Homo sapiens: one gene and its partners. The protein of the gene in region 2 interacts with the protein of the main gene of each other region in a pairwise test. Each region holds a gene or a part of one and is shown on either strand. Other genes may lie near its edges.

Region 1 (7,891 bases), on a different chromosome or scaffold from region 2:
AAGGAAAGACTAAACACAAAGGGTAAGGGAAGATGCAGACCCAGCCAGGAAATCAAAAACTGCCCTGAGTCTGGCTCAGGTACCTCCTACTTCTATGCTGTGCCTGTAAACATGGAGGCCTAAAGCTTCTCAGCATCTGTCAGTGAAGGAGCAGTGAATGCACCGCAAAACAAAACTGAAACTGGGGGGACATATTAACAACACCCAAAAGCAACACAACTGATCTTGCTTTGGAAAGCATTTTAGTTACAGAAAAGGCAAAAGGCTGTCAAATGACATCTGTAAAGTTCACCCTTTCCCCCACTTCCAGAAGGCTAGAGTAATGATGAACTATATTGGAGCATTGAATTCAGGCTCACTCAACATGCAAAAAGCAGTACACGACTGAAGTGTGCAAGCCAGCATGGATGCGGGCTTGGCACCCGCAGTACGTTGGCTTCATAGTGACCAATCCAGAAAGACCACGGAGAAAATACTGCCACATCTCAGCGTCTGCAGCCCATACAGGCAAGCAGACACATGTATCACCTTCCAACGCCTGCACAGACTCACCGCCCAAGGCTCAGCAACAGAAGGGCAGGCCATTCCGACTGGACAGTGGATTTGGATTATTTCTCTTTTCTTTCTGTTATTCATGTGTCAGAAGCCACCACGGGCAGAAATCGAACTTAGTCTTACAGTGGCCCGATTTCTCTCATCCTTTGAGGATGGTTATGTAAGTTCCGAAGACAGAGTAAAGAACGTATTTCAAATCAGATGCCACCAGACAGCTCATAAAAGCAGATTTATTAGAGATGCAACATCAGGTGCTCAAAGGACAGATAGGATAAAAACACCAACAAAGCCAACAGGATAAAAAACACTGCCGCTGAGGTGAACGGAAAAAGGCCTCCAACATCATTGCCCCATATTTTTGGGAAGGGTGCAAATGTGTGCTCTCTCCTGTGCACTGGCCTCATTAACAGCAATATAATGCAAATGCAATACAAATGGTGTACAATTCGATCATAAAATCATCCTCTGCGCTGTCACCTTCACATCCCAGAGCCACCCGCCCCCGGTGCTTAATGCTGGATGAAACAAAGTAGCTAATCTTACAAGAGAATTTAGGCCTGTGACAAAAATCAGGGTCCCTCAGCCAGGGAAGAAGGGGAGCTAAAATTTTCACAGGAGGTGGTGTTGCCAGGCAACCTGATCAGCTCTGCTCCCCATAGCATCCTGCAGGGACCCAGCCCCCGGTCAAGTTGTAAAGATAAGGGTACACATACGCACAAATAGTAAATCCTACATCTGCCTGGAATCACTTTCCACCTCATGGACCACACAAAGGGGAGTGAGGAGTCAAAGCACAAAAACAAAATGTTTTGTGTCAATCTAGTTAAATGTGGAAAATCCAAATAACGGTCATTAATAACAGTGTTAAAATGTTACCATTTGACATTACTTACCACATCCTAAATGGTAACTCAGGATGTGTCAGGAATTCAATGCTTTTCATAATCCTTGCACAAAGTCTCTGAAGTAGGTAGTATAGATGGGGAAATTAAGGCACTGGAGAATTAACTAAGTGCCAGAGGAGTTGGGGTTTTTGTTGTTGTTTTGTTGTTGTTGTTGTTTGGGTTTTTTAGGTTTTTTTTTTAAGCAGAGTCTCACTCTGTCACCCAGGCTAGAATGCAGAGGCTGGTCATGGCTCACTGCAGCCCTGACCTCCCGGGCTCAAGCTATCCTCCCACCTCAGCCACCCAAATAGCTGGGACCATAGGTGCCCACCAGCATGTCCAGCTAATTTGTTCATTTTTTGTAGCGATAGGGTCTCTCTAGGTTGCCTAAGGTGGTCTTGAACTTCTGGGCTCAAGTGATTCTCCCAAAATACAGGATTATAGGTGTGAGCTACTATGCCCAGTCCAGGATTTGTATTTGAAGCCAGCAGTCCATCTTTCTACGCCATGTTCTTAACCACTGCACCTTATTACCCAAAACTGTGGACAGAGACCAGTGCAATTGTAGGTAGGTTCTGCAAACTCAATGGCTTTATCCTGAAGCCTGGGGGATGCTTTCCATACTGAAGTGAACTGAGATTAGCAGCTAGTGGTGACATGGGATTAGTCCCACCTCCTTGCACTGTTATGAACCACTTGGAAGAATGTTTGTATATGAATGGTGGGCACCCTCTGTAAGACAGAGGGCAAAGTTGTACAACGGTTTTCTGGAGCTGGGACGTCCTGGGCCTAAGGCCTAATTCTGTCACTCCTAACTGCATGAGCTTGGGAAGTTACTTCTCTAAGCGTCAGTGTTCCCATCTGTAAATGGGCATAACTGCAGTCCTGACTTCATGAGCTTGTTTTGTGGGTTAAGTGAATTCATGCATGATAATTAGGAACTACTAACGCAATCACCAAAATTGCTAGAGGATTAAATAATTCCACAGATAAAAACTTTTTTTTTCCTTTTTTTTTTTTTTTTTGAGACATAGAATGTTGCTCTATCACCCGGGCTGGGGTGCAGTTGCACATCTTGGCTCACTGCAACCTTCGCCTCCCGAGCTCAAGCGATTCCCCTGTCTCAGCCTCCTGAGTACTGGGATTACAGGCTCACGCCACCACACCGGGCTAATTTTTGTATTTTTAGTAGATATGGGGGGTTTCACCATATTGGCCAGGCTGGTCTCGAACTCCTGACCTCAGGTGATCCGCTCGCCTCGTCCTCCCAAAGTGCTGGGATTACAGCCGTGAGCCACGGCGCCCAGCCATAAAAACTTTCGCCATAAAAACTTTCGTTAGCCATAGTCTCACCATAAACATGCCACTTACAAAAAAATATGCGCACAATAACCACGCTCAGGATGCAAACAACATCCATTAATGAACTTTGTAGTTAATACCAAAAGTTACTCCTCACTTTATTCTTTATTTACAAAAGCTTTCATGGTTCTTAAAAGTGTTTAGTATTCACCAATTTTACTGTTAGCGTTTCTAATGAGGATTTTCTAAAACTGAGGCATGGATTTGAAAAAGTGTTCTGATCAATCAGTAACAGATTTGGAATGGAATCTCCAGCCCCCAGTCTTTGCGCCCACCCTCTGGCAATATGCCGCCTCACGTGAGCATCTTTAAGACGGAGTTCCCTTTTTATTCCAGATAAAAGAATTAGGAGCCTTCTGGTAGAAAAGAAAGCAGATCTTCAGGATCAAGTCGCAGAGGCTGGCCAATCAGCCCAGCTTCTCATTTGAACTTGACCCAGACAGTAAAACAAACTTTACCATAAGGCGAGACTAACTTTTGTTATGTCTTTTCTATTCATTTCCTATTTCTGAATCAAATCTGAACTACTTTGTGGCCAATATACGACACCAGCTTCCGAGTGTGGGAATCACAGGATTTCAGGATTCAGCGGCTTCCGGCAGGATCCCCTAGGTTATGTTTAGCAATCTTCAGTTGCCTTTCCTTTTTTTCTTTCCTTCCTTTCGTTCTTTCTTTCTTTTTCTTTTTTTTTTTTTCCCAAAGGAAAGAACAAGGGAGCCCAGGCGGAACGGAAGTGAGTATCCCGACACGCGGATCTTAAACAGCCCAGACCACCAAGCCCGACAGGCCGGGAAAGCTGAGCGCGCGCTGCTGGGGGGACGCACACTTTGGAGGCTGTGTGGGCGCGCGCCGGCACCCCACAAGTTCTCATCCGTCTGCTCCGCCGATTCAGCCAGACAAAGACCGCAAGTTCCCCGGTCCACCGCTCCAGACAGGCGGGGACCAGTCTCCCCGAATTAGGCCCATTCCGGGCCCGGGCGCCCTCACTCGCCGCGGGGAAAAGTCCCCAGGTGCCCCTCCGTGATCCAGGTCCTCCCACAACGCTCCCGCTCCTGCTGGCGCCCCGCACCCCGAGGACGGCGGCCGGACCCCGGCCCCTCCCCGGTCCCGCGGCTGCAGGCCCACGCGCCCCACGCGCCCCGCGCGCCCCCGCCCCAGCTCCGCCGAGGGGGCGCTGCTCGCTGCGCGGTGGACCCCTCGGACCCCGCCCCCGCGGCCCCGTCCGGGCCCCGATACCCACCCGGGTCCCGCTGCGGGGGCCGGATTCGCGCCGGCTCCGAGAGCCGCCACCGTCGCCTCCGCCGCTGCCGCCGCCAGTGAGGCGCGGCGGGGCGGGGACGCGCGGGGAGGCCCGGCCCCCGGCCCGCCCCCGGGCCCGCCCCCGGCCCGGCCCCTGCCTGCCCCCGCCGGTCTCCCCGCCCACCTTCTGGCCCAGCCCTGGGCCCAAGCCTCTAGTTCCCTGCTGGCCCTCCCTCAGGCCTCGCCGCGTCCCGGCCTCGGGGACTGTGCCCCGTCCCGAGCCTGGCGTCCCCAAAGGAAAGGCAGGGCTCCTCGGACGCTCCGCGTGCGCGCTGGCCCTCCGCTGCCGCCCTCTGCAGGGAGATTTCTCCTATTTCGGACTAGGAAGGGAAGATACGCTCCGGAAGACCCCCCGGGCGTCCATGCAAGGAGTCTCCGTAGGACCCCTGGAGAAGGGCACCGGAGCCCCCTAGGGCAGGAGATGGAAAAGCGCTCGCCATGCGCGGGGTCCCCGGCCCCCGGTGCCCCCAGCCCGCCTGCCATTCCCGGGCGCTTAGCAGTCCGGGGTCCCCAGGTGCCCGGCAGGTCCCTTCGGGACCTCGAGCCGCCCGCTGGGCACACGCTGACGCCGCTGTCGCTTTACAGAAATTGAGCGCAGCCGAGGCGGGACCCGGGCGCAGAGAGCGATAAAGGAAAAGCATGGTCGTGCTCTAATCATTACAGTCTAAGGGACGACACGTCGAGACGGCGCGCGCCTCTGCGTGCGTGGAGATGGCACAAAGGCCGCGCCGCCCCCGGCGGCCCCCGCCCTCGCAGCGCGCGTGGTCCCGGCCCGGCCGGATGTTGACAGCGTCGCCTAGCAACGGGAAATGGCGGAACCGGGCGGCGCGGCGGGCCGGTAAGCCGGGCCGAGGGGCAGCGGGTCTTGGAGTCGCCAGGCCGCGCTCTCCGTTCACCGCTCCAGGTGGCCCCCGCGTCGGCTCCTGCCTCGCCCCTTCGCCTCCACTCCCCCTTCCTCTCGCCTGTGTCCCTTCTCTCGCCATTTTGCTGGCCTTTCCCGTCCACTGCGTTCAGCCCCTCACCCCCCCGCCAACCCTTCTCACTTCTCCCCTCCTGTCCCTTTGTCCTCTCTCGGCCTCCCTCTTTCCCCTACTCCAAGCGCGCGACTCCCTCTAAAACCCGGGACCGCTCACTCTGCAGTCACCATGGCAACCACTCTGCGTGGCGGTCCCTGCGCGCAGTCCTCCTAAGAGTAGAGGGCTCTGCAGGGCGCGGGGCTGTTGGATACCGCCCCTGACCTTGCTCCGGGGCCACTCGCTGTGGCCGGAGACCAGCCCGGCCCCGCGCCTCCCTCCTGCAAGGACAGATCCCCTCTCGCAGGCTTGGGGGTGACCCGCGATGGGAGGGGTCCCTGCGGTTAGGCGGCCCGCGATAGTCCGCGGTCACCGTCCTGGGGCCTGGGTGGAAGCACTGAGCGCGCACAGGGAGGGCGGCTGAGTGAAGATCCCTGCCACCGGGCCTCTGCTCGCTTAGGCTCTGTTTAAAAGGATAGAAACGATTGGAAAGAGTTTGGCCTTTTTACCTTAGACACATCGGTATTGTTTCATTTTTTTAAAGGTGGGTCTGTATGTATTGACATGGAAAGACTAAAGGTATTATTAATAAAACGATAGGCATAAATGTAAAAGGGTAGGTATACTATGATCTCTAATTCAGGGTGTGTGTGTGTGTTTAAAACATAGAAAAATGTTGAAAGAATGTGGTCCTAAATGTTATCAATGATTATCTTGGGAAGGAAAGGGAAGATCACAGGGAACTGTCACTGTCTGTCTCTTTGAACATATCTATATTCCTTTGACAGATAAAAATAGCTTGAATCTTTAATTTTTTAAAAAAGATATACATATATATATATATATATATATATTCCTGTGCTACGTAAATCGTGGAGAAACTCAGAGTCCCCAGAACACTTACTCTGATCGCGCTACTTTCTCTACGTTGTATTTCTTTTCCCCAGTTTTGTCCCAGACACAAGTTATATTTGAGGTGACTTTTCTGGGGTGATCTAATCCTGCTGTTCCTTCGATGTTTTAATAATTATATTTTTCATTCATTCATGGAGCTTTGCTTTTGTGGCATCTCCGCCACCTGACAGGCATGATATAGTGCTATGGTTCCTGACAAACAGGACAAAGACGTGACAACAGCCTGGGGGTGGCAGAGAAGTAACAAGTAAATAAACAGATGTGCAGAATTCAGGAGGGGATAAGGACCAAGAAAAAGAAAGCTGTTGCTTGAAACTGTTCAATTGTTTCTCTAAAACCAGGTCCCATCCGGAAGATGGATCGGCTTCTGAGGGAGAGAAGGAAGGGAATAATGAAAGCCACATGGTAAAATTCCCTATGGGCAGTTATTCCGGGCTTATATTTACTAGGAATTAAAGAGAATCAGAGTACGGGCACTGTGGCTCACGCCTGTAATCCCAACACTTTGGGAGGCCAAGGCAGGTGGATCACATGAGGTTAGGAGTTTGAGACAAGCCTGGCCAACATGGTAAAACCCCATCTCTACTAAAAATATAAAAATTAGCCGGGCGTGGTGGTGCGCACATGTAGTCCCAGCTACTCGGGAGGCTGAGGCAGGACAGTGGCTTGAACTCGGGAGACAGAGGTTGCAGTGAGCCAAGATCACACCATTGCACTCCAGCCTGGGTGACCAGTGAAACTCTATCTCAAAAATAAATAAATAGGCCGGGCACGGTGACTCACGCCTGTAATTCCAGCACTTTGGGAGGCCGAGGCAGGCAGATCACGAGGTCAAAAGATCGAGACTATCCTGGCCAACATGGTGAAACCCTGTCTCTACTAAAAATACAAAAATTTGCCAGGCATGGTGGTTCACGCCTGTAGTCCCAGCTACTCGGGAGGCTGAGGCAGGAGAATGGCTTGAACCTGGGAGATGGAGGTTGCAGTGAGCCGAGATTGTGCCACTGCACTCAGCCTGGCGACAGAGCGAGACTCCATCTCAAAAAATAGATAAATAAAATTAAATTAAAAATAAATAAATAAAGAGAATTAGGACTTGGTCAAGTATATTGTATGATGACATTATCTTGCACCAGAACAAACTCAATTCAGTTGAAGAGAGACTCATTTTCTTCCTACCCCATTCTACAGTGTCAGTGATTAGTCAGGGATGCAAAGGATGTCCAACTTTGGGTTGCCCTGAGTTTTTCGGAACTCATTTCCTGTAACAAAGGATGCAAAAATGATTATGAAAAGCAGAGAGGGCCAGGCATGGTGGCTCACGCCTGTGGTCCCGGCACTTTGGGAGGCTGAGGCGGATGGATCTCTTGAGGCCAGGAATTCAAGACCAGCCTGGCCAACATGGTGAAACCCCATCCCTACTAAAAATGGAAAAATTAACTGGGCATGGTGGTACACACCTGTAGTCCCAGCTACTTGGGAGGCTGAAGCAGGAGAATCGCTTGAACCCAGGAGGTGGAAGTTGCAGTGAGCCGAGATCACGCCACCGCACTCCAGCCTGGGCAGCAGAGTGAGCCCCTGTCACAAAAAAAAATAAAAAAAGAAAGAACAGATAAACTGAAGCATGAAACATGATTTTTTTTTTTTTTGAGACAGAGTCTCACTCTGTCTCCAGGCTGAAGTTCAGTGGCACGATCTCAGCTCACTGCAACCTCTGCCTTCCGAGTTTAAGCAATTCTCCTGCCCCAGCCTTCTAAGTAGCTGGGATTACAGGTGTGCACCACCATACCCAGCTAATTTTTGTATTTTTAGTAGAGACGGGGTTTCACCATGTTGGTCAGGATGGTCTCAATCTCCTGACCT
Region 2 (7,033 bases):
AAGGCAGTATTTGCTATTTGCAAGGAACTAGGCCCTTTCCCAGGCGGTCCAGCTCAGCTCTGTGAGGCAGTACTATCATGAAGTCATTCTTGTTCCTTGCCTCCTCTTCTTTGCTCCCAACCCTTTGTTTGTGCTGTCAGCTATGTGGATCGCGACACCCCCAGCCACTGGGGCTGTGCCACCCTTGAGGGCCGGGACCCTGCCCCAGGACTACTCACCTGAGGGCCTGGACGAGGTTGAGGTTGGCGAACTCGTGGCAGTCCACGAAGGCCTGGAGGACCTGCAGGTTGATGGGATCCCTGGGGGAGGAGGCGGAAGGGAGGGTGGGACACACTTGGATACTTGCTGGCACCCACCTCCTGGAGGGGGTTGAGGTGGGGGAGGGAGAGGACAGAGACATCTGTCCTTCTGGGGTCCAGCTGCCATCTGGTGTGTTCACATCTGTCCCACCCATATCACACCCTGAGGGCACACCCTTGTCCTCCCATGCAGGAACACACACCTTCACGGCTCACCAGCGCTGGTCTGGCCTGGGAGGGGAGCCCTGGCTTTGGAGCGGCCTTGCCCTCAGTCCAGGCCTTCCTCATTTCCTGTAACTTCCCACCTGGTGACCTCGCGGAAGCCACTTGACCTTCCCAGCCCCAGCTTCCTCATCTGTACAAGGGAGAGAAGCTGACCTCCCCCATCTCCTCCCTCTCCCCAGCTCCTGAAGCAGGAAGGTGCCCTTCTCACCGTCTGCATCCCCTGCTCACCGCGGGAGGGAGGGGTGTCCTTGGGAGCTGGGGAGAGGGCTGTTGACTCTCTGGTCCAGCTTCACCCCTATCCACTCGCCCACCCCTCAGACCAGTCCTTTGCCCAGAGCGCTCCCACAGATCCCCACCTCCTCGCCCACAATATCCTTCCTCTCTCCTCCCGTCCAGTCTAGATTCTTGAGCCTGTTTCTGACCCCAGGGCCTTTTTACTTGCTACTCCTGGACCGCTCCTCCCCCAGATGTCTGTACTGCTCATGCCCTCACCTCTTTTACGTTTTGGTCAAATGTCACCTTCTCCATGAGACCCTTCCTGTCCACGCTATTCTAAATCACAGCCCCCAACCTATGGTCCCCAGCATGTCTTTCTTTCTTTGTTTTCTTTTCTTTTCTTTTTTTTTTTGAGACGGAGTCTCGTTCTCAATCTGTTGCCCAGGCTGGAGTGCAATGGCGTGATCTTGGCTCACTACAACCTCCGACTCCCAGGCTCAAGCGATTCCCCTGCTTCAGCCTCCTGAGTAACTGGGACTACAGGCACCTGCCACCACATCCGGCTAATTTTTGTATTTTTAGTAGAGACGGGGTTTCACCACGTTGGCTAGGCTGATCTGGAACTCCTGACCTCGCGATCTGCCTGCCTCGGCCTCCCAAAGTGCTGGGATTACAGGCATGAGCCCCGAGCCTGGCCGGTCCCCAGCATTTCTGACTTCCCTTCCCTGCTCGATTTGTATTCCACAGAGCTTATCATTCTCTAACATATTTTACAACTATTGAGACCTGTCTCTCCCACTAGCATGGACTTCCTGAGGACAAGAGTTTTGTCTGTCTTATTCACTGGTGTACACCCAGGGCTTAGGATGGTGCCTGGAACACAGTAGACCCTGAGCAACATTTATTTGTTGAATAAATGACTAAATGAATGAAGGCAGTCAGGCTTTGACTCAGAATCTGGAGGGGATGATCCGTGAGCCCCTCAAGCACTAGGAGTGATGACTTTGCTAACATAATTCATCCTCTCACCTGCACATCCACACACCTGTACACACCTGCACACCTTCATTTCCTGCCTCGCTAAGGCTCCACTCGTTCTTACCTCTCCCCCAGGTAGGTACCAATGGCTGTCTTGTTGAGGCCCTCGCCTTTATACAGGAACCGTGCAATGTCCTGGACGTCAGGGGTCAGCAGCTTGTGCTCAATGAAATACTGGATACCCTGGAGGGGGTACACAGAAGCCGTGAGCAGCTGCTGCATGGAAGCAGGCCTGGGAGGGGGAAGGGAGGAAGGAGCTTCCATGGCCAGAATCCTGGAGCCTGGCATTCTGGTGTTGGCACAGTCTGTTCTGGGAAGTTTTGACCCCTCTTTCATAGGAGCTGCCTTTGGGAGGTGATGAGTTCCCCATCACTGGAGGCATGCAAAGAAAGTCAGCTTTCCTGCCATGAACCAGGTTCATGCCAGGTACTCCCCAGGGTCCCCCTCAGTCTGACATTCTTTGATTATATGCTTCAGTGACTCTAGGAATTTGTGATTCTGAGATTCAATGATTCAGCCATTTCTTTTGTTCCCCTAAAACTCATATTATTTAAAAATAGCGTTTCATTCTTTCACACAAGTAATCTATGTCTATTGTATAAAAGTTAGAAAAACCAGCTCAATCCAAAGGGGAGGAAATTGCCCGGGCCCTACCGCTCGGAGGCAGACAGCTTCCATCGTGGTGACCTTCCTTCCCTTTCTATGTGAAAATGGGCTCAGACCATGCCTGTCACATTTAAATCTGTTTTTCGGATTTGACAATATCACAAGCACCTCTCCTCACCACCAAGGCACTCAGAGTTTGTCATCCTAGTTTTAGGAGTTGGAGGGGTTGGTCTCTGGCTCTCCGTGAAGATTCCTCTGTGTTCCACTGCTGGAAGTTGGGCACAGGCCATGAGGGCCCAGTGACAGGCAGAGGATGCAGAGGACACCCCTGGGTGCTGGGTGGGGTGAGAGTGTGAGCCTGCGGGGGTCTCTGTGGGTAGGAGCAGGAGTCCAAGGGTCTGTAGCCATGAGAGGTGAATGGTTATAACACTTTGGGCCTGTGATGGGGACAGGGAGCCTTCTAAGCCAGAGCGGTAAATTTCCAGGGACCCCAGCTTGGTGCTCTCTGCTGGCCACCTGACCCCACCTCGGTGTGTCTGCCTGCGGTTTCCTTCTGTCTCCGTCCTTTCAGGATGGAAGCCCAGCTGCCACCTGGTGGGGTGAGGCCAGGGGCTTGGGAGTGGTGTGGGGGATCGAGGTAACCCAGCCCTGAGCTGCTGCTCCTACTAGCAGAGGGGTGGGTGGTGGGACCGCAGGACTGGCCCTCCCTGAGCCCAGGGCTGGAAGATGCTTCTGGAGCCTAAGCCCCAGATCCAAGAGCTCCACTGTCCCAAGCCACATTCATGGAGAAGGAAATGGAGGCCCAGAGTGGGGAAGGGACTAGGCCAAGTGCATGGACACCGTGGCCTCCTCCATGCTCCTGGCTCCTCCTGCCCCAAGGCGTGTATGCCTGGGAGTAGACAGGGCGCCCAGCCACAGCTGGCCATGGGGCACTGGACAAGATGCTCAGCTCTGCTGGGCACAGCTTCCTCCTCTGGAAAGGGGTCGTGTCAGCCGAGGGGAGCGAGAGGACACCAGGCAGGTGCTCCCATGCAGCCCCCACACCCTGTGGCCCGGGCCCTCCACAGCCACCTACCTTGGCGGGGTCCATGTTGAACTTCTTGCGCCCAATACACAGCTCCTTCTCCTTCTGGGCCATCCGGCTGTGGACATGAGGACGTCAGCTTGGGCTGCCCCAGGACCCTGAATTACCCTCTCCACTCCCCAAGGACCCTTGCCTCAGCAGGAGCCCATACCCCTCTAGGGCCCTCCAAGTGTGGCCTCCGGGTCCTGCATGGGAACCACCTGGGCGGGAGAGAGCAGTGCAAGGCCTGGCTCCTCCCAGAGCTCTGCAGCTGACTTCTCTGATGGGCCCAGCACGGGCATTTAGCAGCTTGCAGGAACCCGGAGCTGCCGTGTGGGAGAAGGTGGAGGGGCCCTGTGCAAGAAACCGGGGGAGGGGGCGAGGGCTGAGCACGCAGGTGCTGGAGCCAGGCTCCTGGATGCGAATCTGAGCCGGGCTGCTTTGGGCGAGTCACTTCCTCTCTCTGGGCCTCAGGTTCCTCATCTATAAAATGGAGGTGATACCACCACCTGCCTCCCAGCATTGTTGAGAGGTTAAAGCACCTAAAACAGTGAGGCGTAGGTGTGTTATGTTGTCATTGTTGTGGCTGGAACAGGGGAGCTGGAGAAACGGCCACTCGTGTGTGTGCATGCTTGTGTGTGTGTGCATGCTTGTGTGTGTGTGCATGCTTGTGTGTGTGTGCATGCGTGTGTGTGTGTGCATGTGTGTGGTGGGGGAGGGGAGGAGGCTGGACAGGTGGAGACCTAAGGAGTGGCGGGCGCAGGATGGGAAATTGCCAGGACATCGTGTGTCAGAGTCAGTGCACTGGGGCCTTAGGAGACTGTGTAGCAACCAACCTTCTTGTTGCACAGATGGGGAAACTGAGACCCAGAGAGGGACAGGATCTGTCCCAGATCACAAAATAGTGGGAGTTTTCCACAGAGGCGGTGGGCGTGGCTGGCCCGGGGTTAGTGGTGAGTGGGGTGGGGTAGGGCCAGGCTCCTGTCCTCCTGGGGCCCTGGGCTTCCTTGTCCTTGCCCTTGGGGCTGAGCTTCCCTTCTCCCCGCCCATCCCAGGGTGGATGTGGCCAGTGATCGGTCAGGGCTGGACCACAGTGGGTCAGGAGAGACTTTGGGTTGGGGGAGGGGAGGACGCAGTGTCTCTCAAGAGAGGGTCAGCCTGGGAGCAGGGACCAGACCCGGGATGGGGCCGGGGCCACCCTGTTCCGGTCTCGTTGCTGCCTCCTTCTCCCTGGCCAATCCCTGATTTCACCAGGTCCAGGGGGCTGGGAGTGGCCCCTGCTCATTCAAGGTGTATGACATCCTTGGGAAGCAACCATGGCAGTTTCTGGGGGTCCCCACCCAAGCCCCTCACCTCTCCTCCGCACTCTCGAAGCAGTCGATTTGGGCAAACACATCTGCAATCTCATCCTTCAGCTTCTGTGGGGTGGCAGGGGCAGGACAGGGAGAGTCAGGGGTGGAGGCCAGAACCCCGGGGGTTTGAGACCACAAGGACCACTCCTACCCCTGGGCACGACTCTCAAACCTGGCCCCTCTCCCTGACCTCTGTCCTGAGTCCCCAGTCTGAGGGACCCTCCATGGACAGGTCCCCTCCCTGGATGTCTCATAATTTCTAAGTCGCATGCTAAACTATCACCTCTGTCTGCACCCATGCCTCCACTTGTCTTGGGGAGTGGGATTCCCCAAGCCCCCATCCCTTGCCCATCCTTTTTCCAACCTTCCCATCTCTCCTCTCTGCAGCCATGAAGTCTCCTGCACTCTAGCCGAGCCTACCCGACAAGCCGGCCTCCCCACTGCCCACCTCCCCCAGCCCACCTCCACCCTGCCCGCCTCCACCCTGCCCACCTCCACCCTGCCTGCACCCCCCGCCCGCCTCCACCCTGCCCACCTCCCCCAGCCCACCTCCACCCTGCCCGCCTCCACCCTGCCTGCCTCTCCCGGCTGGTGTCTTTCTGGAGCACTGCATGGAGCCTGCCCTTCCCCTGCTCAAACCCCTCCCATGGCTCCCTACTGCTTCCTCAGCTTCTCTCTGGCTTTCCTCCATTTACTATGTTGCTCACCCTTGACTAAGTGCCCGCTATGTGCCTGCCAGGTACTACGGGGACACCACGCACAGGCAGCCTAGGCCCTCTTTCCAGGGACTTTGCAATTCCCCTGGACTTTACAGAAGAGGACACTGAGGCGTAGAGAGATGACACGACACGCCCGCAGTCTGACTCCAAACCTGTGCTTCCCCCAACTCGACCCCAAGCCCATTTCATCTTGACCCTGCAGGAGGCACCCAGTGGCAGAGGGGACCCCCTAACACCTCCCCCTGCCAACCACCAGCACCCCCTGAAGGACACCAGCATGAGCCTCTGGCCGGCACCCCCATTAGGCACCCAGCCCCTTTCTCCCCAGGATCTGCAGGGTGCTGGTGAGGGGCTGGTTCCAGGGACTTGTCCTGAGACTCAGGGCCAGCATGGGACTTGGGAGCCTGTGTCTGAGCCGTGTCAGCTCCTGTTCATGCCATCTTGGCAGAGCCACTGAGTGGTTGCCCCACAAATACAATGGGGATTCATTTGCAAGTATTAACTGAGCACCTATTAATGCTGCACCCAGCGGGCTGGGGATGCAGTGGTGGGCAAGACAGACCTCGGCTCTGTGTTCATGGAGGGCACAGTCTGGTGGGGCTGGGATCATGGGTGGTCATAGGGTAATTGGAATGACTATGCAGAACACCATCAGAGCAAGGTAGAGAAATCCTGGCATATAGTAGGTGCTCAATGAAACAGCAGCTGAGTGAATAATTTTGTGCCTTCATTTCCTCACTGAAATCCTAAGTTTATGTGCATGGGAGTGGGGGTGGGCACAGCCACTGCAGCCCAGGCAGAGGGGACTGCGAGTGCAAAGGCCCAGGGGCAGTGCTGAGCAAGGCACGTTCCAGGAACAGAACCCAGCCTGTCTCAGAAGCTGCTGACCCAGATGAGCTGACGTCTGAGTCTGATTGGTGAAGTGGTAAGTGCAGGGCACATACTGGGAGTTATCTTGACCAGGTGGTCTACACTCTGCAGGGGTGAGACCTGGCTGAAGCTTCACCACAGGGGTCAGAGCCTGCCCTGTGACAAAGCAAGTAAAGGCCAGGATGAGGATCGGCACACGGTGGGCGCCTAATTGGATCGCTGCCTCCCTCCCCGGCTCTCCCAGTTCTCCCTGGGTCTCGGGGTGTCTGCAGTCTTGTTGTTCTCCCTGCTCCTGGGGCTGGGGCCGAGGCTGATATGAGCCAGAGTTGGCCACACTGTCTGTTGACCAGGCTGGGTCAGGAGCTGGTGGGGTGCGTACAAGCGTGCAGGAGTGTGGGCATGGACACGTGTGTGGACACGAGTGTGCACTCACCTGGATGTCCTCCAGGAGCTGCTTTCGGTGCCACTTGATCCTCTGTAACTCTTCCGTCTCCCCGCTGCTCAGCTCCGCGGGCTCTACAGAGAGACAACCGGCCTTCCCCATCACTTGGCTCCAGCCACACCCACTTGCCCTCACTTCTGCAGGGCCCCCTTCCCTCCGGAAACCCAGGACTTGCCCTATTCACAGAGGCCCACCTCCTCCAG
Region 3 (7,033 bases), on a different chromosome or scaffold from region 2:
ATGCTGGGATTACAGGCGTGAGCCACCATGCTGGGCTTCCTTCCTCCTTTCTTTGTTATCCCATCCCATTTTTTGTCCCCTTCCTTTTTATCCTGTCTCTGCTCTTTTCCTTCTTGCCCTTCTCCCCAGTCGAGCGGTTCTTGTGGCTACCACAGCTGTCGACCCCCTTAGGCCTAGAGGACTTTGGCCCAGAGGGGAGTTAGGCTGGGCCCCTGAGAGCCCACTGAGAACAGGGTTTGCTGGTGAGGCCCACAGCCCCTTCTCTAGGTCAGCACCCCCAGTGCCAGAATCTCCTGCCCCAGATGGTTCCTGAAGCACAGTCCTCCCTTCCACTCCCCTGCTCTCAAGCATCTATTCAGCTTTTTGTAACCAAGATGGTTCATATCTAGCTTTTTTGTTATTGTTCTCTTTTCTCTTTAAAGCTGGGGAAGCTCCAGGCTACCTACACAACCTGGCCCAGGCTGGTCACGGTGTCCCCCCTCCCTGCTCTGTGCCCTCTCCTTCCAGAAATCCACCATGGAGAGTAAGGATGAGGTCAGCGACACCGACAGTGGCATCATCCTGCAGTCTGGTGAGTGTTCAGGGAAATCCCCCTGCCCTAGTCCCTAGTCCCTGGTCCCTGGTCCCTGGCCCTGACTCCTGAGTCCTGAGCCCTCAGGCACTAGGGCTGGCTGGGCTGAGACTCCCAAGGGCTGAGAGGAAGGGGAGGGAGAGGCCTCTGCTGGGAGGAGGGGGAGGTTCTGGAAGGGCTGGAGCCTCAGGGACATGTGGAGTTTTCCTCCCTGGAGAAAACTGGCTTGGAGTTTTGGTTCTATCTGGAAGAGGGATCTGCAATGTTCAACTTTAGCCCCAGCTGAGAAGTTGAAAAATCTCAGGCAGGCACAGTGGCTCATGCCTGTAATCCCAGCACTTTGGGAGGCCAAGGTGGGCGGATCACAAGGTCAGGAGATCGAGACCATCCTGGCTACCACATAGTCCCAGCTATGTGGGAGGCTGAGGCAGAAGAATCGTTTGAACCTGGGAGGCGGAGGTTGCAGTGAGCCGAGATCGCGGCATTGCACTCCAGCCTGGGCGACAGGGCAAGACTCCGTCTCAAAAAAAATATATCATCTGGCCAATGTGAAGGTCTTGCCTCTCTGTTTGGCCAGACCTGTGGGCCTAGTCTGGCCTAGTCTTGACAGAGGACAAGAAAGAAGAGGCTTATGTGTGTGTGCAAGAGAGAGGGGTAGTGGGGAGAGGGAGAGAGAGAGACAGGAAGAAGAAGGAGAAGGAAAAGAGGAAGAAGAAGGGAGGAGGAGTGGGGGGAGGACTGCACCGGCAGAACTCCCTCCCCTGCACTCCCCCACCATAGGTCACCTGGTGGGACGACCCTCCCTTCTGAGTTGTAACATTTGTGCAGCCAAGAGACGTGGTGTTTTGTGGCTGTGACACAGGCCACAGCAGCCAGCCTGCAATTTGTGGGCAGGCATGAGATGTGTGTGTGTGTGTGCATGTGTGTGCATGTGCATTCCCCTAGGGGTGGTCAATAAGTAACGGAGGAGGCTTCCATCTTCAGCCTCCCTGAGCATGTGCCCCCCAACCCTTGCAGGCCCCGACAGCCCGGTCTCCCCAATGAAGGAGCTGACCCATGCAGTGCACAAGCAGCAGAGGGCCCTGGAAGCGAGGCTGGAGGCCTGCCTGGAGGAGCTGAGGAGACTCTGCCTTCGGGAAGCGGTGAGGCCCCAGCCAGCACACACAAGCATCGGGTTCATCTCAGGAGCTGTGGAGCCACGTGTGGGGATGCGGGAGCTGGGGAGAGGGAGCCCCATTCTTGAGGGAATTCTGGACATCAGGCTGGGGGCTGGGGCCCAGAGTCCCCATGATGCAGTGTTTGACCTTGTGCTGGATGGAGAAGAGTCAGACCCAGGCAGGGGCCCAGGCACAGAGAACAAAGTTCATCAGGGGCTGCAGAGGGACTGCACAGACATAAGTGCATATGAGTGCTGTAACCCGGGTCGGTGTAGCTCTGGAGGAAGTGATCAGAAAGAGGTCTGAAGGGAAAGGGGAGGAGTGCAGAGTGGGTCTGAAGACAGGAGAGACAGTGTGGAGGATGGGATGAGGTGGGGTGGAGGGTGGTCCCACCAGGGCTTCTATGGAAGGCAGGCACATGCAGTGCAGGGGCCAGTGAGCCAAGTCTGGGCAGGTGGAGAGGACCTGGCTGGTCTCTGCTTCCTCCCCAGGAGCTGACGGGCACCTTGCCAGCGGAGTATCCCCTCAAACCAGGGGAAAAGGCCCCCAAGGTTCGCCGCAGGATCGGAGCGGCTTACAAACTGGATGACTGGGCCTTGCACAGAGAGGTGAGGAACCTCAGGAAGCTGCCAGTACCCCTCGATCCCCAAAGCTGATCACTGAGACGCCACACCTCAGCTCAGTACCCTGGCAGGTTCCCTTCCACCCTTTCACACCCAGTGAGGGTGCTTGGCTGCCTGTTGGTGAGAGACACCATGAATATGTAGCCCAAATGGCTGTGGAGAAGGGGCGCCACTAAGGAACCGAGAGCTGGGAGCTCAAGGGAGGACACTGGGTTTGACCCCATTGGGCAGAAGATCAGTTAAGAGCACCAGCCACCAACCCAGCGGGCAATAGCCTGCTCAGACAGGTTACTCTGGCCCCTAGGGCTGTCCTCCTTTCTCAGGAGGAGGTGGGGGCAGTCAGGCCCTGGGTGCCCTTCCCCTGTGGCGTCAATGGCAGCAGTTTCCCATGGGCCAGCCTGCCCCACCCTTTGGGGTCAGGAGGGAAAGTGTCCCACTTGGGTTCCCACCCTGCCCGGTTCAGCAGGTGGGCTGGTGGGTGGGTGCCCATGCCAGCTTTTCAGGCTGACAAGTTTGCTTTTCGGCTCCTCCCACTCCTTCACCCTCTGCTCCACGTCCGTCCATTGGTGCTGCTGTCTGCCTCTCTTCTGTCCTCAGGGCTTAGGACTGGGACCTAGAGCACTGTGTCAGGGCTGCTGTCCACCCTCTGGGCCCCCAATCTCCCTGCCTCTCTCTAGCCTCACTCCTGCCCCCTCTCTCAGGACCCCCTAAGCAGCCTGGAGCGCCAGCTGGCCCTGCAGCTGCAGATCACAGAGGCAGCCCGTCGGCTGTGCCTGGAGGAGAACCTCAGCAGGCAGGCTCGGCGGCAGCGGAAGCACTCCATGCTGCAGGAGGAGAAGAAGCTGCAGGAGCTCCAGCGCTGCCTGGTCGAGCGGCGGCGCAATAGCGAGCCACCTCCGGCTGCTGCTCTCCCCCTGGGCCGAGGTGAGCCGGCTGCCCTGAGGGGGGCCATGCTCCTTAAATGAGCTTTTGAGGGATGGTGGGCGCACAGCCCCGTGCCACTGCCTTTGCATTTGGCTCCAGCTGGGTAAAGCTGATTCTTGGGTTCAGCTCCACCCCATCCTGATTCTCTCCAACTCCAGCAAGGCTTCCCCATCCTGTGAGGTCTTCTTCTCCGTCTCCTTAGAAAACACCCTACTCTCTCCTTCCGTATCCTCCTCAAAATACACTACCTTCAAGAGACTTCCTACACAGAGATATTTCTCAGCTGACCCTGAGCTGAATCCAAGGTGTATTCAACTGGGTAGCCCAGGCTGGCCCCGCTGCCCTCCAGGCCCACAGGGTGATGGCATCTCTGGGTCAGGGTAGTGTGAGGCTCCCGTGAGCCCAAGGCTCTGAGTTGATGTGTAGTCCCCTGGCCTGAGTTAGGCAGCAAAGGGTTTGACGATTGCTATGTGTTACTGATCACTGAATTGTTTCAGGGGCCCACAGCTACTTAGGAGATGTTCAGGTTGAAATCCAGCAGGACTGGTGCCACACCCCACAGCCCCTTAAGTATCTACAACCACCCTGGTCAAGGGTGGGATCCTTCCATGTCTGTTCTCTGCCCTCCTTGTGTCTGTAGTTCAATCCCTGAGCTCCTTGGCCCAGAGACTAGTGGCCGTGGGGGCACCTAGTGAGTTGTTGATGCCCAGGTGCTGCCACATCACATCAGTGTGTCCACCACAGGTTAGCTTCCAACAGGTGGTTCTGAGCCCTTAGGTGTGACTGTTTTCCTTTGTCCTGACCCAAGGCCAGCCTGTCAGGTCAGGACTTGCATCTCTCCATTCCAAACCCCACCGCAGCAGGCCCATGACTCAGCTCTGCCCCCCGTCTCTCACATGGGACCCAGACCTCCCTGGCTGCCTCAGAGGGAACCGGGAGGGAATGAGGCCGTGGCCCTGCAAAAAAAAATCCAGAATTGGATTCAGAGGTCTCGGCCTTCATTCACATTCTCAGGCTCCCATCCCTGCATATCGTGTTGGCTTTTTGCCAAGACTACTCCTCAGCCTGGGAGCAGTCATGGGGAAGCTGGAAAGCCCTTGCTAGTCCCTGTGCCCTGCAGCCTATGCCTCAGGCAGGGAGTTATCTCAGCACAGGTCTCAGAAGTCCCTGCTCCTATCCATGGCTTTTAATTTAGGGTAGAAAGTGCATGACCAGACACCACCCAGGTCACCTCCCGCAGCCAAGAGTAGGTGATAAAGGAGGAGGTGCCTCCATGTGACAGTTAACCCAGTAAACTCAGAAGACAGTGGGGCTGACCCAGGGAAAATGGCCAGACCTCTGTCCGGTTCCAGTGGTTCTGGCTTGGCCGCAGAACAACACTCCCAGTCTCTGAGGCTCTAATGGAAGACAAGTTCTACAACCTTACTCCACTCTCAACAGGGATCCCAGGACTTGACAGCAACCTTGAAAGGTAGCTGCTGAATTGGACATGGAAGCCCCTAAGGGCCAACTTGCTCTGTGCCTGCAGGGAGAGGTCAGGGTGGTGAGATATGCCCGTTGGTTGCAGCGCCTCCTGCTCCCCGGTCCAGCCTCACACTGCTCAGCAGCCTCCCCTGCCCACCGGGGCTGCCATTGCTGGGAGCTTCTGCCCATGATGGGTGGCAGGGGAGTGTCACCCTGATGCTGCCATTGTGACCCATAATGCTTCTTGTTGGGAGTCGGGAGCAGGCCAGGACTGGCCTGGGGCTCTGTGGAAGGCAGGAGGATGAGGTTCTGAAACCTTGGAGCCCTCAGTACAGGTGAAGACAGAGCTGTGGAGAGGAGACAACTGGTGTAGTTGCTGACTTTCCCACATCAGGAATCAAGATCCCACTGGCCAACTTCAGGCCCTGGGATCTAAAGTCCTGTTGTGAGAGCACAGAAGGGATCAGTTCTAGACAAGTAATTTCTGTTTTGTGGCTCCTCTGCCCAGCCGAGCCCTCCTAGAAAGGAGGAAGTAAAGCAGAATTATTAGTAGCTGAGGTGTTTTGAATTAAAAAGGGAAGGCCGGACACTGTGGCTCATGCCTGTAATCCCAATACTTTTGGAAGCCAAGGTGGGCGGATCATGAGGTTAGGAGTTCAAGACCAGCCTGGCCAACATAGTGAAACCCCATCTCTACTAAAAATACAAAAATTAGCCAGACATGGTGGTGCATGTCTGTAGTCCCAGCTACTCGGGAGGCTGAGCCAGGAGAATCCCTTGAACCTGGGAGGTGGAGCCCAGGATCAAGGGAGCCGAGATCGTGCCACTGCACTCCAGCCTGGCAACAGAGTGAGACTTTGTCTCAAAAACAAAAAACAAAACAAAACAAAAAAACAGGAGGCCAGGTGCAGTGGCTCACACCTGTAATCCCAGCACTTTGGGAGGCCGAGGCGGGTGGATCACTTGAGGTCGGGAGTTCAAGACCAGTCTGACCAACATGGAGAAACCCCATCTCTACTAAAAATACAAAATTAGCCAGGCATGGTGGCGCATGCCTGTAATCCCAGCTACTCGGGAGGCTAAGGCAGGATAATCACTTGAACCCAGGAGGCGGAGGTTGCGGTGAGCCGAGATTGCACCATTGCACTCCAGCCTGGTGACAAGAGCGAAACTCTGTCTCAAAAAAAAAAAAAAAAAAAAGGGAAAAAAGCAAACAACCCAAAAACCGAAATAAAAAACCACCCTGCCCCCTTGGGCTCCATACAAGGGTAATTTAGTTTGGGAAAGTAACTGCTAGGTGAGAGTCATCAGCCATACTTTGCAGTGGCAGGGAGCAGTCAGGTGTTGAGCTCATTTACTAGAGTGAACCGCATGAGGGCCACCCAGCACCCACCTGTGCAATGTAATAGGCACTCTGGATGCATCTGTTGATCAACAACACCAGCCATTAGCCACATCCTCATAACATTTTTTTTTTTTTTTTGAGACGGAGTCTTGCTCTCTCATCCAGGCTGGAGTGCAGTGGAGCCATCTCAGCTCACTGCAACCTCCACCTACCGGGTTTAAGCGATTCTCCTGCCTCAGCCTCCTGAGTAGCTGGGACTGCAGATGCGTGCTGCCACGCCCAGCTAATTTTTGTATTTTTAGTAGAGATGGGGTTTCACCAAATTGTCCAAGCTAGTCTCGAACTCCTGACCTCAAGGGATCCTCCCGCCTTGGCCTCCCAAGTGGTGGGATTACAGGCGTGAGCCACTGCGCCTGGCCGCTCATAGCATTTCTGAGATGGTGGAAGTGTTCTGTATCTGTGCTGTCCAATACAGTAGCCACTCGCTGCATGTGGCTATGGAGCATTTGAACTGTGCCTAGTGTGACTGAGGAACTGACTTTATTTAGTTTTAATGAAAATAGCCACATGCGGCTAGTGGCAACTGTGTTGGACAGCATAGCCTTGGGGGAAGCTCAGCATTTGTGAGTAAAATCTCCACCGTTACCCCTCTGTCTGGGGTGTCCTGCGATGCTGCTGCGGGGCAGGGGAACGCTGAGCTAGGGCAGGGTTGGGACAGTTGCTGAGATAGTGAGCAGCTCTCAGAAACCTGAATCTTTTTTTTTTTTTTTCCAATCTTTTTAGAGACAGGGTCTTGTTCTGTTGCTCAGGCTGGAGTGCAGTAGTGTGATCATACCTCACTGCAGCCTTGAACTCCTGGGCTCAAGTGATCTTCCTTCCTCAGCCTCTAGTAGCTGGGACTACAGTCATGTGCCACCACACCCAGCAAATTAAAACAAAACAAAACAAA
Region 4 (3,343 bases), on a different chromosome or scaffold from region 2:
AACTGAAAAGTAATTTATCAGTAATTTTTAAGAGTCCATGTTTTGTGACAACCATCTCTAATAGCCAACTCTTTATTAAACACACTCCTAAAAATAAGGAACCATGACATTGTAGATATTTAATATTGTACAGTATAGAAACCTCCATTTTTGCCTTCGAATGCATATTTAAGAGTTAACAGAATGAAAAAAAAAAGTCTTGTTGGATAATAGTGTTTGACTAGCGTTTTAAGAACTTGAGAGTAAAAGCAACAATAAGATTTTTTCACCTCTTCCTGCTTCCACCCCCAAACTGAGAACATCACTCAATTGTTTGGAAGAAACTGTAGGTCTATATAAATTTTATTTATAATGTATGTGTAATATACATAATCATAATACAGTTCTCAGATGCAGGGAAGAAGTTTGGCATTTAATCATTGAGGCTTTAGGTTTTTGATGTGATCAGACTGGGCCATGTCAAACCCGGAATTTTCACCAACAGTTCACTCACCCTCCTGGTACATTGCCATTCCAAGGAATTCTGAGAGTAGGCAAACAAATTTTGCCTTCATGGTACAGTTCTCAGTTTTTCTTATAGGAGAAATATGGTATATGTTTATAAGAATCTTTTATGAGATTATAGATTTCAATGCTGTGGATAGTGTCTTGCACCCAAACAAGAAAGTCCATAATGGAATGATCTTCCCTCAGCTTCCTATCGATTTAGTTACCTCTTGAAAGCACAAAAATTAAAACATTGCCATATGTTGAATTTTTAAAAAGCACTTGGAGTGAGCGAACATTTCCTGATAAATGCCTTTTAGAGATAGGTTCTTGATATTCAGACATCTGCAGAAATGTTCTGGTTCCCAAAGTCATTTCACTTCGAAATAAAACACAGCTCCTTCAAACAGCACTTTTTCCACATAAATCTAGTTGCCTCTCCCTGTGGACATTCAGAACTGATAGAACAAACACTACTCTTTTGAATTTGATGGTTCGTGTCCTTTAAAGTGTTTGAGGACCTATGCAGAGCCTGTAACACTTGGGTAGTACCTGCTAGGACAATTTCTTGGCAATTGTCTTACTACTAGGGATCAGTAAGATTTAGATTCTGAGCCCATAATGGCAACAGCCCCCTCACCTATGGGAAGCTGACTTCCCTCAGTCGGGCACTTCTCATGGGGGCTGAACATGGTTCCTGCCATTCTGTTACCCACTCTCCCAGGTGAGCCCTGGATTGGCTCCCAGAAGGCCTTTGTAAAATCAGTAGCCGTCCTGCAGGCAGGTGGGAGCAACAGGGGCTTCAGTAGCTTCATTTTCCTGTCTTGCAGACAGAGACCCTTGGCTACCACTGTGCTGCTAATAGGATAAGTACTCTGTTGCCAGATTACCATGCCTTTTATACAAAACCAAATTAACTTACCTAATACCTGACACCTCTTTGGGCTCTGAACTGCTTTCTCTCATCAAGCATGCTAGCACTCTAGACAGAATTCTAGAAATTTGGCAGATAGTGGAAGCCTTTAATTGAACTTACTCCTTCGTTGACTGAAAGGAGTTTTAAATTCTGAGCTCCTGAGATACTGACTAGCAACCATGGAATGAATGTGTGACCAGAAAGTGGCTTTGACACCAAGTGCTACTGTCCCTTTGTAATTGGCTTCTAACAGAATTCAACCAGAAATAATTGATAATGTGAATTTTTGTTAATTGTTCACTTGTAGGAAAATAGAACATGTATCACCCTTTGTTAGGTAGACATGAACTTTTCCTGCACAAAGCCTTGCTTTTAGAGAATGCCCAATAAGGCAAGAAAAAGCATAGTAACTTGTGCTTTGAGAGCTCAATATTTGTATCTTATCAGTACAGAAGAAATATTTCTGTGTAACTTGATCTTCTGTCTAGTACTTGTCTTATAGGTAACCAACACTGAAAACTTTGTAGTGATGACTACCAAAGAAATACATAGTAAAACAACCTTTTATTTCCAAATTGTTAAAGAGCCAGCCATTGATGCTGCTACATGAGTTCCATGCTCAAGAGCCATTGTAAGAGATTAAGGGGTTTCTAGGTTTTTGGTGATTTTTTGTTTGTTTTTTTCTTTGTTTTTTAGGGTTTTTTTTTCTTCTTTAATTTTTTGATTAAAACATACACACAGCTGTTAGCATAAAGTCGTGGGGGGCATTTTCTGGAATGCTCAGCAGTTCTGATTAACTGCCAAGCCCAGGTTGCCTCTCATGAGGCAACTGAAAAAATCCTGTGTCTTGATAGCATGGGTGCTGTGTGTGTGCATGTGTGTGTCTGCATTCATGCCTTAACTCGGGTTACTGCACAACTTTAGTTCTTGACTTAGTCTGCACCGTCATCTAGATTGTATTGTACATCTCGGTCTGAACTTCATCCTGGCAAAAACAAAGTTGCAGGCACAACAGTTTAAGAATGCATTCCTCCAGAAGAGTATCTGGTCAGGTTGACCCCTGAGCCTTCTTTGGACTTGATTTGGAACTTAGCCTGGAAAGCGAAAGTGGACTGTCCAACAGAAAGATGTCAACAAGGAAAAGAGGAGAGCCAAGCGCTAGCATGCCTTTTGCCTCTGCATATCTGTGCACACTGTATGTTGTTCATGATAGCTTGTCTACAACTTGACTAGGTTGGAGTTCTGGTAATAGTGGCAATCTTGACATTCTTGGTCAGAGTTTAGAGAGATGTAAGACTTTCAATTAATGTCTTATTTACTCCTTTATGTTGATTAGTCTTTGATACATGTGCTGAATCAGAAACCTAAATAAAGATAATTTTTTAAAATGTACCTCTTGAGCCTTAAACCCTATCTTTTTTCATTTCGGTTTTTGGGAATAAAACATTGTTTCTCTGTTGCTTCTGACAGACATCTAACTTAAATTGTAAACTCTAAAGGCTGCCTTAGAAAGTAAATTTAAACAACTGGGTGCAGTGACACAAGCCTGTAGTCCCAGCTACTCAGGAGTCTGGGGTGGGAGGATCACTTGAGCCTTGAGAGTTCGAGGCTGTAGTGAGCTAGGATTGCGCCATTGCACTCCAGCCTGGGTGTCAAAGGAAGATCCCATCTCCAAAAAAAAATAAGGAATGATGGCACGAAAAGGGCTGGTATAGTTTTGCTTATTTGTTTTTGACGGAGTCTCACTCTGCCACCCAGGCTGGAGTGCAGTGGTGCAATCTTGGCTCACTGCAACCTCCACCTCCTGGGTTCAAGCAATTATCCTGCTTCAGCCTCCCAAGTAGCTGGGACTACAGGTATGTGCCAACACGCCAATACAAGTTAATTTTTGTATTTTTAGTAGAGACGGGGTTTTGCCACATTGACCAGGCCGGTCTCAAA

Evidence for each region.
Region 1: the proteins of CYTH4 (region 2) and CCDC40 interact in binary tests that used the Homo sapiens proteins (3 or more experiments, as listed by UniProt).
Region 3: the proteins of CYTH4 (region 2) and INAVA interact in a two-hybrid assay, tested with the Homo sapiens proteins (one study listed by IntAct).
Region 4: the proteins of CYTH4 (region 2) and CCDC6 interact in binary tests that used the Homo sapiens proteins (3 or more experiments, as listed by UniProt).

Annotation. Positions count from the first base shown.
Region 1 is NC_000017.11:80,031,754-80,039,644, forward strand, and holds the start of CCDC40 (coiled-coil domain-containing protein 40), read left to right. Parts: upstream 1-4,888; 5' UTR 4,889-4,909; coding exon 4,910-4,938; intron 4,939-6,369; coding exon 6,370-6,433; intron 6,434-7,891. UniProt on the Homo sapiens protein: Required for assembly of dynein regulatory complex (DRC) and inner dynein arm (IDA) complexes, which are responsible for ciliary beat regulation, thereby playing a central role in motility in cilia and flagella.
Region 2 is NC_000022.11:37,292,492-37,299,524, reverse strand, and holds part of CYTH4 (cytohesin-4), read right to left. Parts: intron 6,924-7,033; exon of another isoform or gene 6,905-6,923; coding exon 6,822-6,904; intron 4,866-6,821; coding exon 4,801-4,865; intron 3,527-4,800; coding exon 3,460-3,526; intron 1,962-3,459; coding exon 1,843-1,961; intron 300-1,842; coding exon 219-299; intron 1-218. UniProt on the Homo sapiens protein: Promotes guanine-nucleotide exchange on ARF1 and ARF5. Promotes the activation of ARF factors through replacement of GDP with GTP.
Region 3 is NC_000001.11:200,897,885-200,904,917, forward strand, and holds part of INAVA (innate immunity activator protein), read left to right. Parts: intron 1-422; coding exon of another isoform or gene 423-516; coding exon 517-571; intron 572-1,588; coding exon 1,589-1,713; intron 1,714-2,219; coding exon 2,220-2,336; intron 2,337-3,052; coding exon 3,053-3,275; intron 3,276-7,033. UniProt on the Homo sapiens protein: Expressed in peripheral macrophages and intestinal myeloid-derived cells, is required for optimal PRR (pattern recognition receptor)-induced signaling, cytokine secretion, and bacterial clearance.
Region 4 is NC_000010.11:59,788,214-59,791,556, reverse strand, and holds the end of CCDC6 (coiled-coil domain-containing protein 6), read left to right. Parts: 3' UTR 1-2,810; downstream 2,811-3,343.